5 linked regions of the Homo sapiens genome follow. The protein of the gene in region 1 purifies or fractionates together with the protein of each later gene. This does not show direct contact. Each region holds a gene or a part of one and is shown in the gene's direction. Other genes may lie near its edges. The genes, in order: CDHR3, PLXNB2, CLSTN1, PYGB and EXOG.

Region 1 (3,515 bases):
TGTGGGCATGGTGTAGGGGGGAAAATGTGGGCTGAGGGGATTCAGACATCCAGGGTCAAACATGGGATGTTTGACAAATTTTTAAACAAATAGAAAGGGGTTTGATCACATAGTTGCGTGTTCTGAAATGATACAGGAACATTTTCTATCAGATTTCAGAACTACCTGTGCTTCTGATAAGCAAGACTGTTAACTTTGGGGTGTGGAATTGTTGTGTTTCTTCTTTGCATTGACTGCTAGGAAGCTCTATTCTGTTCACCATAGAAAGTTTGTAGGAATTCCTGACATAAATAGTGAAGACTATCCTTACATCTGGTTTCCACCTTATTTTCCTGCCCTCGTTTTAACATCACCCAGATTTCTTCAGTTATAAATATGCCATACACCTTTGTAAGTCACCTCAAATCTTCTTCAAAAGAAGCAGAACAGTGAAAAAAACAGATGAGTAAGTTAAGAGTTGGTCATCTGGAAAGAAGAAAACTCAGTAGGCACCTTCTTTTGTTTTTTCTTGTGGTGTCCGGATCAGCATCCTGCATGTGAGATTCATCCACGTTGTCCTGTCTAGCAGTAGTTCAGTTCTCTTCATGGTTATGTCTGGTTTCATTCTATGATTATATCACAATTTATCTATTCTACACTTGGGTGGCAGCTGCTTCAGATTTTTTACTTTTAAAAAATATACTTAAAAGTGAACTACAGGCAGGGCATGATGGCTCATGCCTGTAATGCCAGCACTTTGCCAAGGTGGGCAGATCACCTAAGGTCAGGAGTTCAAGATCAGCCTGGCCTAGATGGCAAAACCCTGTCTCTACTAAAAAATACAAAAATTAGCTTGGTGTGGTGGTGGGCACATGTAATCCCAGCTACTTGGGAGGCTGAGGTAGGGAGAACTGCTTAAACCTGAGAGGTGGAGGTTACAGTGAGTTGAGATTGTGCCACTGCACTCTAGCCTGGGTGACAAAGCAAGACTCCATCTCAGAAAAAAAAAATAAAAGTGAATTACAACACTATGAACTTTCTTGTACATGTCTTTTGGTGAACATAAACACTCACTTTTTTGCTCATATATCTAAGAGTGGGATTGCTGGAGCAATTGCTGGATCTGCCAAAGAGTTCCAAAGTGGTGGCTCTGATTCACATTCCAGCAGCAAACACTGAGAGTTGCAATTGCTCTCTATCCTTGCCAACACTTGGGATTGTCAATCCTTTTAACTTTAGCCATTCTGGTTAAAATTACTATTGAAGTGAAATCACTTTTTCCTCAAAGCTGAAACACCATCAGCCTTACAACCTACCTGCCTTGCTCCTTCCCACTTCCTATGATTGGAAGGAACTGCAGGACTCTGAGTGGGGACATACTGGAAGCCCCATCTAGACATAAAACTCAGACTTCCACCTGTAGGCATGAGCAATGAACTGGGAATAAATGGTATTATGATGGAATAGGAAATGTAACTTTCCAATGTGTGCCTAGCAGAGCCTGAGCAAGCTTCACTCGAGCTCTATGCCCTGCTGCCCAGCTGCTGCGACCCTAGTCCAGTAACCCTAAGAAAGGTCCAGGTGAGTGTTCATTAGGGAAGCACTCCCTTCCCAACTGGGGAGTCAGGTGAGAGCCTACCAGGTCCACAAGGTCCTGTGGGAGACAGACTGGATCCAGCAAATGTAGAGCTTCAGAGAGAGCAGCAGCTTGTTTACTGTGTGCCTAGTGCCAGTGTCACTTCTCAAGCAAAAGAAGCATTTGCAAAATGCCTGTCCTGGCCTAGATTGAGCGTGATTTATTAATAAGGGTTGGTTGCCAGGGAACTCCCTTGAATGGATTTAAACTTTGCAAAAGAAGGCAGAACTGTTCATTTATGCAGGTTAAAGTGAGTGAAGTGGCTGATTGCCCATTTAAGGCATTGCAAATCTGTGGGGCCCGGAGTCAAATGCTTTCCTTGGAAGCTCTCAGCTTCAATGCAAGTAAAATGAGGTTCTGAGAAGGCTGAAGGGGGACTTAATAACTGCTTATAAGCCCATTAAGAATGATTAAAAGGGCCGGGTGAGGTGGCTCATGCCTGTAATCCCAGCACTCTGGGAGGCTGAGGCAGGTGGATCACCTGAGGTCAGGAGTTTGAGACCAGCCTGGCCAACATGGTGAAACCCTGTCTCTACTAAAAAATAGAAAAATTAGCTGGACGTGTTAGCAGGCACCTGTAATCCCAGCTACTCAGGAGGCTGAGGCAAGAGAATCGCTTGAACCCAGGAGGCAGAAGTTGCAGTGGGCTGAGATTGCGCCACTGCACTCCAGCCTGGGTGACAAGGGCAAAACTCTGTGTCAAGAAAAAAAAAAAAAAAAGAATAATTAAAAGGAGAGAGTGGTGAGCAGCTGGTCTTTCTTCTCCAGTGATGACAGGGCAAGAGGGAATTGTGCTTAATGGCCAGAGAAGAGATTTAAGTCAGGCACCAAGAGGGACTTCCTGAAGCCTGGGGCCTCTCTGAAGAGCTCAGTGTCTTCTCTGGTGATAGGCAGGAAGAGCTGAGTGTCTTCCTAGTCGCAAGGCAAGCCTCGAGAAACTCAAGAAATAGGGGCAAGAGTGCGCCAGGAGGAGAGAACACCTGCTGCCCCGTTTCTTTTGTATATCCGGCTATTTGGTTCGGGGAAATCCAGAAGTCAAAGTGTCACCGGTGGAGGGTCTTGACTGCAAGTTGTCCAAGTTCTTGGAGTTTTGAACAAAGAATGGAACAAAATGCCCAGCAAAGCAGAGAAAGAATGAGGCAACGAAAGAATGAAAGCAGGGATTTATTGAAAACCAAAGTACACTCCACAGTGTGGGAACGGGCCTGAGCAAGTGACTCAAGGGCCCAGATACAGTCTTCTCAGTCCAAATACCCCTTGGAGGTTTCCCCTTGGCCACTTCATGCTCACCTCATGGAAATGAAGTAGTGGACCACAATTGGTCTGATTGGTTGCAGGAAGCAACCAATCAGAGACTGAAGTGGAGTTACAAAGGTCACGCTCCTGTGCAAACATCTGATTGGTTGCAAAAAGCAACCAATCAGAGGCTAAGGTGAAGTTACAACGTTGCAACGAAGACTCGGCTGGCAATCAGTCTGATTGGTTACAGACAGCCAATTTCCCAGCGTTGACCAGGTTTTGGGGGGAACAAAATTATCTGAATAAAATGAAGACAGCAACCGTCGTGGATTTGGTGAAAGTTTTCTCCCATCTCCCTCTCAAGGCCTTAAACAGGTATGAGTTGATTATAGCCAATGTTTACTTTTCTCATTCTGATTCATTATAAAACTGGGGTAAATACGTTCAGGAATTAGACCACGTAACAATTATAATTGTCGAAGACTTTGAAACTGCATAGTAGATTGTGACATTGGAGCTTTTTGTTGTGCTCATTAGAAAGCAGGGTCTGAAACTCAGCCTGTGTAGCAAGCACGGGTGGCTCACAAGCAGAACTGGGAAATGACACTTCTGCTCCCCAGAGCCCCCTTTCACATCTGGGGTTCTCATTGTTTGCCTTTTT
Region 2 (3,515 bases), on another chromosome or scaffold:
TCTGCAACTCCCCAAGCAGCATCCCCGTCACACCGCCAGGCCAGGGTGAGGCCCCTTCCCGAGCCCCCGGGTGGCCCTTCTCGGTCGCACGGGGCCCTGTGCACACGGGCTCTCGCCTCTGCTGGCCCCTGGGTGCAGGCTCTGCACAGGCACACTCCGCGGCTGCTCCGGGGGCCCAGCCTGAATGAAGCCTGTGGTGGGGTTGCTGTGCCTGTTGGGGAGGTTCTGGCTTCTTGGGCTGTCCGCAGCCACGCCCCCCAGGCCTGTAGCAAAGGTGACTTGTCTTCAGCCTGCTCCCTCATCACGTCCGGAGCGGCATGTGGGTGCCAGGCGCCAGGCCCCGTCGTCTCGGCAGACGCCCCTCACCCCTTCCTGCCATGTCCAGCTTCAGAGAGCAGGGCCGTTCCCAGAGGCTGCAGGGCCTCGCATGTGGGCCAGGGCAGGCGTCGCGCCCATGTCCCCTGAGTTTTGGGGGCAGTGGGGCCACGCAGTGACGTGGGCAGGGACCTGGCAGGTCCCACTCAGACTCCAAGGAGCCGCTGCCCTCAGTGCCTGCGGGAACAGAGGGTATGAAAGCAACCTGGACCCGGGGGAGAAAGGCAAGCCCGGTGCTGCGCCCGACACCCGAACCAAGATCTGATAGCAGGTGGCAGGTCCAGCCCAGCGTGAACGGGCGTCCTGGCAGCCCCACCCGAGATCTGATAGCAGGTGGCAGGCCCCGCCCAACATGAATGCGGGGCGTCCTGGCAGGGCCCCCTGAAGACCAGGGGTCTCCACCTTGGCCCCAGGAGTCAGCCCCAGGGGAGGCCCAGCCTGGCCCTCGGCCCTGCGGCCGCCACCTTGACACCTCCCCCTCTGCTGTCTGCAGACCACGTGGCCGTGACCATCCAGCTCCTCCTTAGACGAGGCAACATCTTCCTCACGTCCTACCAGTACCCCTTCTACGACTGCCGCCAGGCCATGAGCCTGGAGGAGAACCTGCCGTGAGTGTCTTGTGCCCATCGACCCCACCCTGCCCGTCCACCCCAGCCCTGCTCACGATCCCCTCTGGATGCAGGTGCATCTCCTGCGTGAGCAACCGCTGGACCTGCCAGTGGGACCTGCGCTACCACGAGTGCCGGGAGGCTTCGCCCAACCCTGAGGACGGCATCGTCCGTGCCCACATGGTGAGGGGCCTCGGGGCCTCAGGGGACTGTTCAGGGCATGGCTGCTCCGCTGTGCCCAGGCAGCACCTGACCAGCCTTACTCTCCCAGGAGGACAGCTGTCCCCAGTTCCTGGGACCCAGCCCCCTGGTGATCCCCATGAACCACGAGACAGATGTGAACTTCCAGGGCAAGAACCTGGACACCGTGAAGGTGCGGAGGGAGGGGTGCCGGCTGGTGACAGGCAGGCTCAGGTGCGGAGGGAGGGGTGCCGGCCGGTGACAGGCAGGCTCAGGTACGGAGGGAGGGGTGCCGGCCGGTGACAGGCAGGCTCAGGTGCGGAGGGAGGGGTGCCGGCTGTGACAGGCAGGCTCAGGTGCGGAGGGAGGGGTGCCGGCCGGTGACAGGCAGGCTCAGGTGCGGAGGGAGGGGTGCCGGCTGTGACAGGCAGGCTCAGGTGCGGAGGGAGGGGTGCCGGCCGGTGACAGGCAGGCTCAGGTGCGGAGGGAGGGGTGCCGGCCGGTGACAGGCAGGCTCAGGTACGGAGGGAGGGGGTGCCGGTTGGTGACAGGCAGGCTCAGGTGCGGAGGGAGGGGGTGCCGGCCGGTGACAGGCAGGCTCAGGTGCGGAGGGAGGGGTGCCGGCCGGTGACAGGCAGGCTCAGGTGCGGAGGGAGGGGTGCCGGCCGGTGACAGGCAGGCTCAGGTGCGGAGGGAGGGGGTGCCGGTTGGTGACAGGCAGGCTCAGGTGCGGAGGGAGGGGTGCCGGCCGGTGACAGGCAGGCTCAGGTGCGGAGGGAGGGGGTGCCGGTTGGTGACAGGCAGGCTAAGGTACGGAGGGAGGGGTGCCGGCCAGTGCTGATGGGTGTGTGGGAAGCCTGAGCTCCACCCGTGCCCCCCGACTCGGGGCCCCCACATGAGGTAGAGGGCACAGGATTTATCGGGGACAGAGGCCAGGAGGCAGCACTCGGGGGCCTTTGGATGGGCCTGAAGAGAGGCAGTGGAGGAGGCAGGCGTGTGGAGATTGAGGGGCCAGTGCCACCTCCTGAGGAGGGAGCTGTGGGGGCCACGATGTCAGGTGGGCCGGGCGATGTTCTCAGGTGTGGATGAGTGGTGGAGGTGGCCGTGGGAAACCCACAGAGGACGTTCAGAGGCTTCTGCAGACACAGGTGTTTGGGCTCAGGAGTGGCCGAGGGGTCAGCTGGCATGGTAATCTGAGGGGCGGGCATGTGTGGGGTGAGGAGAGGGCTCCCACACTGTAGGCACAGAGGAGGGGCTGCAGGGGTTCTGGGAGGAGGGCCAGGGTGCCACAGCCGCCTGTCCAGGGTCCTGACGGCATGGTCTGCAGGGTTCCTCCCTGCACGTGGGCAGTGACTTGCTCAAGTTCATGGAGCCGGTGACCATGCAGGAATCTGGGACCTTCGCCTTTCGGACCCCAAAGGTACGGCTCCAGGGCAGGCCGGCTCGGCTGCTGGACCCCAGGGCCCCGGGTGGGGTGGGGGGTCACCTTCAGGACTGTGAGGGGAGGGGCAGCAGGGAGACCCCAGGGACCAGAGCCCAGCCAGGGGCTCGCCATGCCCTGTGCTGCTGGGGAAGCCCCCTCTGCCCTCTGCCTCCCTGGGGACAGAGTGGCACAGAGCAGCGTCCATGGGGTTCCCGAACTTCCGACACCTGAAGGCCTCCCCTGCTGCCCTTGGCTGGGAAGGGACCCGGTGGCCACAGGGAGGCTGCCCTTGTGACCCCCGCCCCACGCCCCTCTGTGGGGGCAGGAAGTGCAGTGTGCCCCTGCGTGTCCCCCAGCTGTCCCACGATGCCAACGAGACGCTGCCCCTGCACCTCTACGTCAAGTCTTACGGCAAGAATATCGACAGCAAGCTCCATGGTGGGGGCCACGGGCGCAGTGGGGGGCGGGCAGGGGACGGGTGGGCACAAGGCGGTGGGTGGGGGGACAGGTGGGCGCAGTGGGGAGCAGGTCGGGGGCGGGCAGGCACGGGGTGACCACTGACGGCAGCTCTCCCCGCAGTGACCCTCTACAACTGCTCCTTTGGCCGCAGCGACTGCAGCCTGTGCCGGGCCGCTAACCCCGACTACAGGTGTGCGTGGTGCGGGGGCCAGAGCAGGTGCGTGTATGAGGCCCTGTGCAACACCACCTCCGAGTGCCCGCCGCCCGTCATCACCAGGGTGAGCCCCTCGAAGCCTGGCCTACACCTTCCCTCGTCCCTGGCATGAGCCCCTCCCTGCTCACCCGGCTCTGTGGTTTCAGATCCAGCCTGAGACGGGCCCCCTGGGTGGGGGCATCCGCATCACCATCCTGGGGTCCAATTTGGGCGTCCAAGCAGGGGACATCCAGAGGATCTCTGTGGCCGGCCGGAA
Region 3 (3,515 bases), on another chromosome or scaffold:
TCCTTGCTTGACCGGAAGTTTAAGCTCATCTGCTCAGAGCTGAATGGCCGCTACATCAGCAACGAATTTAAGGTGGAGGTGAGTACAAGGCTCCCACTGAGCAGGGCCAATAGCAGCAGTGAGTGAGGGCGCTGATTTGCAGCCCTAATATTCACAAACGCCAACCTCAGAGCATTCATGATGGCAGCTATACAGGCTCATTCTAGGGGGTCGCCTTTCCAGCCTGGGGCCTGCTGCAGGTTACACCTGGGCTTGTTGGAGTGACAAGTTGTGTTTGGGGTGAGCTGGGGTGGGGGGTGCTCCCCTTTCCCTGGCTGCCTCAGCCTGAGTTGGAGCCTAAGGAACTTTGCAGGGAGGTGACAAAGAGCAAGTGGCAGTTAATGCCTCTGGGGCTTCTTGAGATTTCCCATGAGAGAAACAGGAGGATGTGGTTTTATTTATTTATTTATTTTTAGAGACGAGGTCTCACTATGTTGCCCAGGCTGGTCTTGTCCCCCCAGGTTCAAGCAATCCACTTGCCTTGGCCTCCAAAAGTGCTAGGATTACAGGCGTGAGCCACTGTGCCCAGCCAAAGACACTGTTTTAGAAAGAGCAGCATCCAGGGAACCAAAAGTTCTCTGCATCTGTGCCAGGTCACTGGCCCTCCTGTGAATGAAGTCGAGTCCTCGGCCCAGGTTGAGAGGGGCTCACGCAGGGACCCGCACGGGCAGGACCAGTGCTGCTGAGGCTGGCGCTGGTGACTCACAGGCCACACAGGCTAGAGGGTAGCTCCTCCTGCTCTGAGGTCGTCTACAGACCTATCCAGCAGCTGCTTCATCGCTCAGGCTCTCTGTGGCCTGGAGAAAATTGACCCAAAGTTACTCTTAGCAATGGAATATCACCATGAACTCAAGAGCAGAATGCTAAATTCGGTGCCTGTTTTGTTTGAGTCAAAGGGTAAGAGATATGAAAGGAAATCCATGGCAGTGATTGGTGCTGTCTTTCACACGGCTGTGATTTGAGGAAAAAGGTCTACGCCAGTGCTTCCCAAACGACCCATGGGGAAGGACCATCGGCTTCTTTTTCTGCTCTTGTTTTGGGCATAATCTTTTATAAAATGCAATAAAAATGGATTGCAGCCAGGTGCGTGGTGCTTGCCTGTAGTCCCAGCTACTTGAGAGGCTGAGGTGGGAGGATTACTTGAGCAGGGAAGTTCCAGGCTGCAGTGAGCCGTGATCATGCTTGTGAATAGCTACTGCGCTCCAGCCCGGGCAACACAGCAAGACCCAGTCTCAACAAATACTAATAAGTAGAAAAGTGATACATTTCTGGAATGTGTGAGAATATTAGATTGTTATAGCAGTTTCTAAGTGCTTATTACTCTTTTTTGTTTGGTTTTTGTTTCTTTTTCTTTGTTTTTGTTTTTTAAGTGCTTACTCTTGATTTTTTTTTCTGTCCTTTTCCCGTAGCTCCGTTTGCCCCCAGCTGCGGTCCAGGAGCCACTCTGAGTGGCACTGGTCATGCCAGCTGCGGGACTCCACTGTCACCTCTTGGACAGGCTCAGGATGCCTGTCTCCAGCGATCCTCTCTTTCTCTGCTATAGGTGAATGTAATCCACACGGCCAACCCCATGGAACACGCCAACCACATGGCTGCCCAGCCACAGTTCGTGCACCCGGAACACCGCTCCTTTGTTGACCTGTCAGGCCACAACCTGGCCAACCCCCACCCGTTCGCAGGTAGGACATGGGGAGGGAGACCAAGCGGAGATGCTCCATGCCGTCCGCCCTGCCCCCACCCCACCGTGGGCACAGCCTCCTGCTCAGCATGACCGCCGGTCTTTCCCTGTCCCAATTATTCCCCATCACACACAAGGAAACTAAAGCCCTCGAAGAGGGCAGATGATGTCACCCGCAGCCATGGAGCAGGACGTGGCCGAGCCAGGTTGGAGGCCCATGGCGAGCTTTTCCTGGTATTTCCTCCTGGCCTGTGGGTTCAGCTGAAGCGTGCTGTCCAGCCCGTTTTGACCAGGCACAGCCGAGGAGGTCAAGGGCACAGTGGCCTTCTGGGCCGAGTGACCTCGCATCCCGCCCCCTCATTCTCCCACAGTCGTCCCCAGCACTGCGACAGTTGTGATCGTGGTGTGCGTCAGCTTCCTGGTGTTCATGATTATCCTGGGGGTATTTCGGATCCGGGCCGCACATCGGCGGACCATGCGGGATCAGGACACCGGGAAGGAGAACGAGATGGACTGGGACGACTCTGCCCTGACCATCACCGTCAACCCCATGGAGGTAGGAGTGGGCGGGCGACCTCCAGGACTGAGAGGCAGCACAGGCCAGGGCCTCCGAGAAGCCGGTACGGCGCGGCTCCTTCAGGTTCACATGCTTTCCATCGCGTCATCTGCTCAGCAAGCCTGGGGCTTAGGTGTCTTCGTGGGTAAACCGAGGCTGAGAGAGACCTTATTCAAGGCCGTTCTGCCTTAAGTGTAGAGAAGAGCCATGCCAGGGCTTGGCGCTCTTGGGTCATGGTAATCCTGAGAGAGTTCTCTGGTGGGGCAGCTGAGGTGCTGTCCCAAGCTGCTTTGTATGTGGGTGACTCCGTGGGTGCTGACTGGAGCTTTGTTTTCCCTTCACTTCTAATATAACTTCCGGTGCCGTCCTGGCTGCTCTGTCGCTGGGGAGGGAGACGCTGGGGCAAGTTCTCCTTCCTCTGTGGCTGTCGAGAGGAGAATGCCAGGTGACGGGGCTGTGGGCAGGGCCGGACTCATGTGGCCGTCACTTCTCCTTGCCAGACCTATGAGGACCAGCACAGCAGTGAGGAGGAGGAGGAAGAGGAAGAGGAAGAGGAAAGCGAGGACGGCGAAGAAGAGGATGACATCACCAGCGCCGAGTCGGAGAGCAGCGAGGAGGAGGAGGGGGAGCAGGGCGACCCCCAGAACGCAACCCGGCAGCAGCAGCTGGAGTGGGATGACTCCACCCTCAGCTACTGACCCGTGCCCCCGGCCACCTCGGTTTCTGCTTTCGAAGACTCTGCTGCCATCCGTTCTCCCAGTCCCAAGGGTCCACGATGTACAAAGTCATTTCGGCCAGTAGGTGTGCAGACCCCTCCCCGCCACGATCGTCGCTGTGCTTGGTGTGTAGGACCCTAGGCTCCCCGCCCACCCTCTGCCTGGTCGCGCTCTTCAGTCCCACGAGGAGCTGACACGTCCTCTCTGGCCGCCATCCGGCTCGCACAGGGGCCTCCCAGCGCCTCAGGCCCCGCGTTTGTGTCTGGAGTCTCCCCCCGGGGAGAGGACACTGGCCCCTCGCACTCCAGAAAAGCCATGCCAGCTGGGCTCGTTGACAAAGGGTAAAACATGCTCACTCCCACCCGGTAATCATTTTTTTCTTTTTTTAAAAAAAGTTTTTATTTTTTCCAAACTAGTGCATGTATAAATAATGGCAGGATGGGGGGTACTGTGTAGATGATTAACTGACTTTTTAATATTTTGTAAATAAATCGGATTCCTTGTGTCCTTTGTGCTAGTGTAACCC
Region 4 (3,515 bases), on another chromosome or scaffold:
ATGTAATTTTAGGTATAGGTAAGTGGCATTTCTCGGCCTACAAACAGTTAAAATGAAAGATTAAAGTAGTGTTTAAAAACGATGACTGGTAGCTCACTAGGTATAAATATAGTTTGACACGGTCCAGATCACTTAGTGTAAGTTGATTAGGCTCTGTCAGTGATAAGGAGAAGGCTCCCATCGCTTTCTGGCTCTGGATTAGTACTGAATAGACTTTTTGTGGAGCTTAATTGCATAGAAGGCGGGAGACAGTGACTTGTGGCAATGTGTGTCATGGAGTGTAGAAGGAATTTGTTTACTACAGAACCAAGTGATCTCTTAAGATCCCCATAAGTTCTAAAGTTCTATAATTCTTTTACATTTGACATTTTCAAAATTGAGCAAACAGACCTGTGTTTGAGTCGTAGGTACTGGAGTGAGAAGGAAATCCACGATCCACGTTGAGAAGCCTGCCCACTGTTCATGGGAAGCCAAGTTTCCCTGGCAGTTAATTCATTAAGAAAGTACCGTGTGACATCACAGGCTGGGAGCTTGAGAGATGTGCTAGCTAATCCTCACATCCTTACAGCAGATACAGTAGTGGATTATCAGATTGCTCTGTGAGCAACTCCCCAGAAGCCCCCTCAGACACAGTGGAGTGGACACTGTGACACTGTCAAGGAAACCAAAGACCAACCTCAGCGTCTGGCAGGTGGGAGGCCCCTCAACATCTCTCCTCCCACAGGACCTCGGTTCCCCTGGATGGTATCTGAGACTGCTCAGCTCACCAGCAGGAGCCAGCAGGTCCAGCCCAGGGAGGTGGCCCCTTTGTGTCTGGAGGGGCTGGGAGCCCCCGCTCCAAGGCCTGGCTGGTGGAACGTGGTGCCCACTGGCCTCTGGCTGGCTCAGTGGCCTGTGTTCCTGTGTCTTATCAGGGCCAGCTCTGTCCATAGTGCCTGGGTGGCAGGGAGGGACACTCTGCCCTGTGAGTCACTCTGTGCCCATGTAGGAACCAGTAGAGGGCGGCTGGTCTGAGGCATGCTGGCACCGACAGAATCGAATACACAAAAGGAGAGTTGCTGTGCTTTCCTGGGGACAGGAGGGGACCGGTTTCAGACCAGATCTGCCTGTAGAATGAGGCTCTTCATCTTGGTGAAAGCAGCCGCCCAACTCTTTTTTTTTTTTTTGAGGTGGAGTTTTGCTCTTGTTGCCCAGGCTGGAGTGCAGTGGCGCGATCTCTACTCACTGCAACCTCCGCCTCCCGGGTTCAGGCGATTCTCCTGCCTCAGCCTTCCGAATAGGTGGGATTACAGGTGTGCACCACCACGCCCAGCTAGTTTTGTATTTTTAGTAGAGACGGGGTTTCATCATGTTGGCCAGGCTGGTCTTGAGCTCCTGACCTCAAGTGATATACCTGCCTCAGCCTCCCAAAGTGCTGGGATTATAGGCATGAGCCATCACACCTGGCTCCAGCTCTTTCTTTTGTTTCCCTGAATGTTGGGAAAGTTCTTTCTTTTTCCACCAGAGTATTAAGACACTAACGTTAAATGAAGACTCTAGTTAAAAATCCCTTCAGAAAAGGGAGAAAAAATTGGTGGTCTCCACAGGCCCAATTCTGTGAATCTCTGTCTGTAAAGAACAAAATGAGGCTCTGCCAGTTGGTGTTACACTCTCTTTTCAGAGTCTGTTAACTCCTAAGGTGTCTTTAGGTGATTGGTATTTGGTGTACTGTTCGTGTTGATCATATTTTCATCTATTTTTGAGCTTTATGTTTTTCTATTATTTGCCTGGTTGTGTAGGCTTTGCATGTGATAAACTCTGTTAAAAAAAAAAAAGTGGAGGGCCTGGCTTGAACCCAGGAGGTGGAGGTTGCAGTGAGCCAAGATTGCACCATTGCATTCCAGCCTGGGCAACAGAGCGAAACTCTGTCTCAAAAAAAAAAAAACAAAAACAAAAACAAAAAACAGGCTGGCTTTAGGCTACTTAACACTTGTTATGTCATATTGCAAGAAGGGACCATGGTAGAAAGATCAATGGCCCAGTTCAATCCCAGGCGGCAGGGCCTCCTTAGAGCAGAGCTGCTGAGCAGGGAGGTTAAGGGATCGTGTTGGCATTTTCAGGCTGAAGCAGGTGAGTCCAGTTCTCCAACCAGCGCTCCCTGAGCAGGGAAGCCCTGTTCATGGTTGCACAAGAGGAGCCAGAGGGGAGTGAGTGGAAAGAGGCTGTCCTGCAGCAGCAGGATTTGGGGTCATGGAAGAGCTAGGTCCCTAGGCTGTTGCTTGGACAAAGCCTATGCCTTTACATGGTTTTTTTCAGAACTGCCACTTGGCAACTTTCTAGGCTTTGCATTTCTCCTTGAAAAGTCTGGTATGGTGAGGGGAACCAGCCTTGCCTGAGTCCTAGCCTAGCCCTGTGCGAGCCCACAGGTGAATGTGGTCCTCTCAGAGGCTGAGTGACTTGCCCAGGTCACCCAGCTAGCCAGGGCAGGGAGCTGGGATGAGACCCCAGCCTGTACCATTCAAGTCTGCATTTTCTTGGCCAGCTCCTCCAGCAAGCCTCTTTTCAGTTTCATGGTTTTCACTCTGAACCATATTAAGGTAAAAGCAAAATAGACACATCTCAGCAAATGATGAAAGTTCTTAAATTGAAACAAGTTGCAGAAAAACCTCAAAGCAGCAAAACACATTGCAGTCCCCAAGGACAGAGCCTGTGGCCCGGCAGGCCCTGGGCAGTGCCTTGGGGGCTGTGCTTCAGCAGGAGGCTGCAGAACCCTCGATGTCTGCATGCAACCTGGACAATTGGAGACGCACAGGCTTCGAGTCTAGGCCCAGCACTTCCCGTGTCAGTCCTGTCCCTTACAAACAGAGATAATCAAGCTCTTGGGACATAACTGGTAAACTTTTTCCCCACAGTAGAAAAGTTCTAAGTAGAAGTTAGGAACTTTTGCAGAGAGAGCAAACTACAACCTAAAAATCCACATTTTAGCCAGGTGTGGTGGCATGCACCTGTAGTGCCAGCTGCTTGGGAGGCTGAGACGCGAGGATCACTTGAGGCCAGGAGTTTGCAGCCAGCCTGGGCAACATAGTGAGACCGTCATCTCTTAAAAAAAAATATACATTTTTAGTTAAAGGCAAAGTAAAAACATTCTGGTCATGTTCCTGGCCTGTCAGCTTTTTATAAAACCTCTTGTTAATACTTGACCCACAGTATTTTCTCAGATAGCCAGGGTCTAGTTGGGCTCAGTATGATTTCGCACTGGTTAATAAACCCTGCCTGGACAGTGCCTGTGGCTTCCTCTGCCAGAGGGGGGAGGCAGGTGCTATGGAAACCCCATAGAATATTAAGTTCGTTCAAATGTAGTGTAAATAAAATCCAGCATGATGAAAGTCCACAAGAGGCCTGACTGTGAGTGACAGCAGCAGTAGTTGTACTTATAGCGGCTATGAGGACTCATTAATTATGCTGCTGTAATTCCTGTGACGTAAAGGACTTTGGAATTTATACAGTAATGTAGAAGCCTATATTCAAATGATCAA
Region 5 (4,125 bases), on another chromosome or scaffold:
CGCGCCACCACACCTGGTTGATTTTTGTATTGTTAGTAGAGACGGGGTTTCACCATGTTGGCCAGGCTGGTCTCAAATTCCTGACCTCAGGTGATCCTCCAGTCTTGGCCTCCCGAAGTGCTGGGATTGCAGGCATGAGCCACTGCGCCTGTGAGTTTTACGTCACAGCTTTGCTACCCAGAGAGACTACTAGATCGAAAATCCCTAGGAAGGACTCTGGTTGATGTAGCTTAACCAGTCAGGGTCCTTCAGAAGAGGTATTCCTGGCAAGGGGGTAGCCTCCCATTTGAGGCTGTCAAAATAATGTGCACACTTCAGTAGGTTGTTAGAAGTGGCCTCCTGGTCAGTGAATCATCAGTGGGATCAGATGAAAGTTATTCCTACCAGTTATCTAAGAAATAGGAAACTTGAAGTTTCTGCTAAGAACTAAGTCCACACGGAATGCTAGAGATCATGCTGCAAAATGAAGACTCATTTGTTTGTGAGTGGTAGTCCATGAAATCTATCCTTTCTTTGCCAGCAGGCGTTCAGCAATCTGGATTTTATATTCTATCAAGACAAAGAGTAGAGATGACTCAAACATTTCTAACATTTATAGAGCACTTAGTGACATGCCCCTGGTACTTCCCTAAACATTTTACATGTGTCATCTCCTTTAATCCTCACAAGAACGCTATGGTCTAAGTATTATTATTCCAATTTAAAAGAGAAGGTTGGGGACAGTGACACACACCTGGACTTACAGCACTTTGGGAGGCCGAGGCGGGAAGATTGCTTGAGGCCAGAAGTTGGATACCAGCCTGGGCAACATAAGGAGACCCCCTTCTTTACCGCTCCCCCACTCCCGCCAAAAATTTAGCCGGGCAATGTGGCACGTGCCTGTAGTCCCAGCTACTCAGGAGGCTGAGGCAGGAGGATCGCTTGAGCCCACGAGTTCGAGATCGCAGTAAGCTATGATCATTCCACTGTACTGCAGCCTGGGTAACAGAGACCCTGTCGCTAAATAAATAAATAGACCTGAGTTGGAATATCGGCTCTGGAGACCTTAGTGTAACCATGCGCAAGTGTTTACTCACCTATTAAATGAGACTAAAGGTATTTTCTTCTCATGACTATATATAGCATACCACTAAGCCCTCTAGACATCATATTCCCCATCCATCGCCCCGTCCAGTGGACCAGGGATGAAGCGGGGATGCGCTAGGCATCCCGGTTTGTCACCAGGGGGCGTGCGAGGCCCTCAGCTTGGCGGGCGGTGAGGCGTGGGGTGACGGGGGGATGGCGGGGGCCGGCATGCGCGCGCATGCGCCGTGGTAAAAGGCCGGTACCTCGGGCAAGATGGCTATCAAGAGTATCGCTTCCCGCCTCCGGGGTTCCCGTCGTTTTCTGAGCGGCTTCGTGGCTGGGGCTGTAGTGGGCGCTGCGGGAGCTGGGCTCGCGGCCCTGCAGTTCTTCCGGAGTCAGGGCGCTGAGGGAGCGTTGACAGGGAAGCAGCCGGATGGTAAGTCTGTGGGCCCGTCCTCCCTTCGCTGGCCCAGATTTCGGGCTCCGACTCCTACCTGGAGTGTGAATGGCAGTCCTTGACGGACAGCCTTCACCGTTTGCTGGGCCCCTAGCCTGGCCCTTGGTTTCTGACCTTTATTCTCCCGGCTCGGCCTCCCTTCCCCACCTCGCGTCTCGCCAGCTTCCCTCATGTCCTTCCTTCCCCCGGGCATCTTCGTTTTCTGCACAGAACCACCCCCGCCGCCCGACTTTCTTCCCCCCAGTTACTCATCGCGATATCTATGTTTTAATGTCTGTGTTCTCTACTAAGATTGTTAGCTCCATAAGACTTGAGACTATGTCTGTTTTGGTCTCCATCATCTAACCAGCACAGTACCTGGTACATAATTGGCATTCAGTAAGTATGAATGAAGGAATAAATTAATACATAATTTTAGTAGATGAGTTAACTGCCCTTCTTTCGTCATTGTTCAGTTGAAGAATACCTGCTATCCCTCCAAAGTGTATAAAAACTCATGTTGCAATGGGTACCTTATATTTGACAAAAAAAAAAAAAAAATTAACACGAGCTCATTTCTTGTACTTTGCGGATGTGCTAATTTAACTTGCTCCTTTGGATACTTGGCATCTAGCAAGAGAACTACCCCCTTGGGGGGTTGAGGATTTGAGAAGGCATCGGGGAGGATTATCTCGAAACTGACTCACTGCTGAATGTGTGCTTGGTTTCTCCCACTAGGAAAAACAGTACCAGTTTTACTGTCATCTTGCAACAGCACACATATCAGTGCTTCAGAGATGATTTGGAAATTTGATGTGAAAGACTAATAAGATCAAGTCTTTATTCAAAAGTTAATGCAGTAGCTGCATTTTATTCACTGATTATAGGCAAATCAGTACTTTGCCTACTGTCTGTTTTCTTCATCTCATAAGTAATTGCAAAAATGAGATTTTCTGGTTGATTAGACTTCTGAGCCAGTCCTTTGTAAATCACACCGCTCTCCTTTTCCTTATAATCTTTCATTATTAAGAGCCACTAATTGTGTGTGTGTGTTTTTTTTGTCTCTGCCCCCCCTTTTTTTTTTTTTTTCATTTTTAGGATCTGCAGAAAAGGCTGTCTTGGAACAATTTGGATTCCCTTTAACTGGAACAGAGGCAAGGTGTTACACTAATCACGCTTTGTCTTATGATCAGGCAAAGCGGGTGCCTAGATGGGTTCTTGAACATATTTCCAAAAGCAAGATAATGGGTAGGTGGTTGGATAAAAAAACTGAAGTAACAGTATTTATGAAAGATGTCTCCAAATTTAAAACAGGGATGATTATTAATATTCTCAACCTTTTTCATATCATAGCACATGTAGAAAATTATATTTATATAACTTACTGGTTAAATCAACCCTGCCTGGCAGCCAGAAAGCCAGACCCTTTCCAGCTGTCTCAGGGCTGAAAATACCCATATCTTGACACACTAGTTGGGAGGCTCTGTCATAAATATTACAGCAATGAGCACCATTCAGTTTTACCTTAACAAATATTTATGTGCCTGCTATGTGTCTGGCACTGTGGTAACCCTTGGGGACCTATGTGTGACCAGAGTAGAGGATCTCTACCCCAGTGACACTTTGAGTTGGGAGAGTGGGTTGACCCATCAAACAAATAATTTTAGATGTATAATTACAATAATTTTTCCAAAGGAGGTGATTGCAAGTTAGTGTAGTATAATTAAGGAACAGTAAAAAGTTTGATGAGAGGCTGGGCGTGGTGGCTCACACCTGTAATCCCAGTACTTTGGGAGGCTGAGGCGTTTGAGCTCAGGAGTTTGAGATGAGCCTGGCCAACATGGCAAAACCGCGTTTCTACAAAAAATACAAAAATTAGCTGGGCGTGGTGGTGCACCTCTGTGGTTCCAGCTACTTGGGGGACTGAGATGGGAGGATCTCTTGAGCCCAGGAGGTGGGGGTTGCAGTGAGCCAAGATCGCAGCACCACACTCCAGCTTAGGCAACAGAGGGAGAATGTGTCTCAAAAAAAAAAAAAAGTGTGATGAGAGATTATAACACAAGAACCTGATTTTGATTAGTAAGGCTTCTCTGGAAAAGTGGACTGAAGAGTGAACGGAAATTACTTAGGCAAGGGGTTGAATGTGCCATGGGATATGGAGAAGAGCATTCTAGGAAGAAAGGAACATTTGCATCTTCGGAGGCCCCCAATGTGGACAGGAGTTTTGTTCTTTTAGGGAACTAAAAGAGTGCCAGTAGATGAATGAGGGGGAAGGTGATGTGAAATGATGCTGGAGAAGTAAGCAGGTGTGTCAGTTTATTCATGTGTCCTTATGTCTTGATAGGGTCCTGTAGAATTGCCAGATCTTGATAATTAATGTCAAATTGGTTTCTAGGTAGATTCTTCAAGTTTACACTCCTAGCATCATTGTTTCTTCTCTCTCTCAACCTTCACCTATGGTGAGCATTACTGAGCTTTACCAATTTAATGCTCATTTTACTTGTGTTTATTGATTATCAATGAGGGTTAACATGCTGTGAATTAGTCTTTTTTGGTAAGTTATTCTTTACCTATTTCAGTTGGGGTATTCTCTTTTGAATTTATTTGTAAAAGTTCTTTTATTT

The links.
Region 2: the proteins of CDHR3 (region 1) and PLXNB2 purify together in Homo sapiens (affinity purification with mass spectrometry; one large-scale study listed by BioGRID and IntAct). This does not show direct contact.
Region 3: the proteins of CDHR3 (region 1) and CLSTN1 purify together in Homo sapiens (affinity purification with mass spectrometry; one large-scale study listed by BioGRID and IntAct). This does not show direct contact.
Region 4: the proteins of CDHR3 (region 1) and PYGB purify together in Homo sapiens (affinity purification with mass spectrometry; one large-scale study listed by BioGRID and IntAct). This does not show direct contact.
Region 5: the proteins of CDHR3 (region 1) and EXOG purify together in Homo sapiens (affinity purification with mass spectrometry; one large-scale study listed by BioGRID and IntAct). This does not show direct contact.

What each region holds. Positions count from the first base shown.
Region 1 is NC_000007.14:106,032,764-106,036,278, forward strand, and holds part of CDHR3 (cadherin-related family member 3 isoform 1 precursor), read left to right. Parts: 3' UTR 1-3,515. UniProt on the Homo sapiens protein: Cadherins are calcium-dependent cell adhesion proteins.
Region 2 is NC_000022.11:50,283,641-50,287,155, reverse strand, and holds part of PLXNB2 (plexin-B2 isoform 3 precursor), read left to right. Parts: coding exon 1-45; intron 46-868; coding exon 869-983; intron 984-1,057; coding exon 1,058-1,166; intron 1,167-1,254; coding exon 1,255-1,356; intron 1,357-2,242; coding exon of another isoform or gene 2,243-2,311; intron 2,312-2,490; coding exon 2,491-2,583; intron 2,584-2,942; coding exon 2,943-3,024; intron 3,025-3,165; coding exon 3,166-3,323; intron 3,324-3,405; coding exon 3,406-3,515.
Region 3 is NC_000001.11:9,729,964-9,733,478, reverse strand, and holds part of CLSTN1 (calsyntenin-1 isoform 1 precursor), read left to right. Parts: coding exon 1-78; intron 79-1,582; coding exon 1,583-1,718; intron 1,719-2,088; coding exon 2,089-2,273; intron 2,274-2,773; coding exon 2,774-2,971; 3' UTR 2,972-3,515. UniProt on the Homo sapiens protein: Postsynaptic adhesion molecule that binds to presynaptic neurexins to mediate both excitatory and inhibitory synapse formation.
Region 4 is NC_000020.11:25,254,585-25,258,099, forward strand, and holds part of PYGB (glycogen phosphorylase, brain form), read left to right. Parts: intron 1-3,515. UniProt on the Homo sapiens protein: Glycogen phosphorylase that regulates glycogen mobilization. Phosphorylase is an important allosteric enzyme in carbohydrate metabolism. Enzymes from different sources differ in their regulatory mechanisms and in their natural substrates.
Region 5 is NC_000003.12:38,495,030-38,499,154, forward strand, and holds the start of EXOG (nuclease EXOG, mitochondrial isoform 1 precursor), read left to right. Parts: upstream 1-1,310; 5' UTR 1,311-1,338; coding exon 1,339-1,501; exon of another isoform or gene 1,502-2,599; coding exon 2,600-2,749; intron 2,750-3,737; exon of another isoform or gene 3,738-4,125. UniProt on the Homo sapiens protein: Endo/exonuclease with nicking activity towards supercoiled DNA, a preference for single-stranded DNA and 5'-3' exonuclease activity.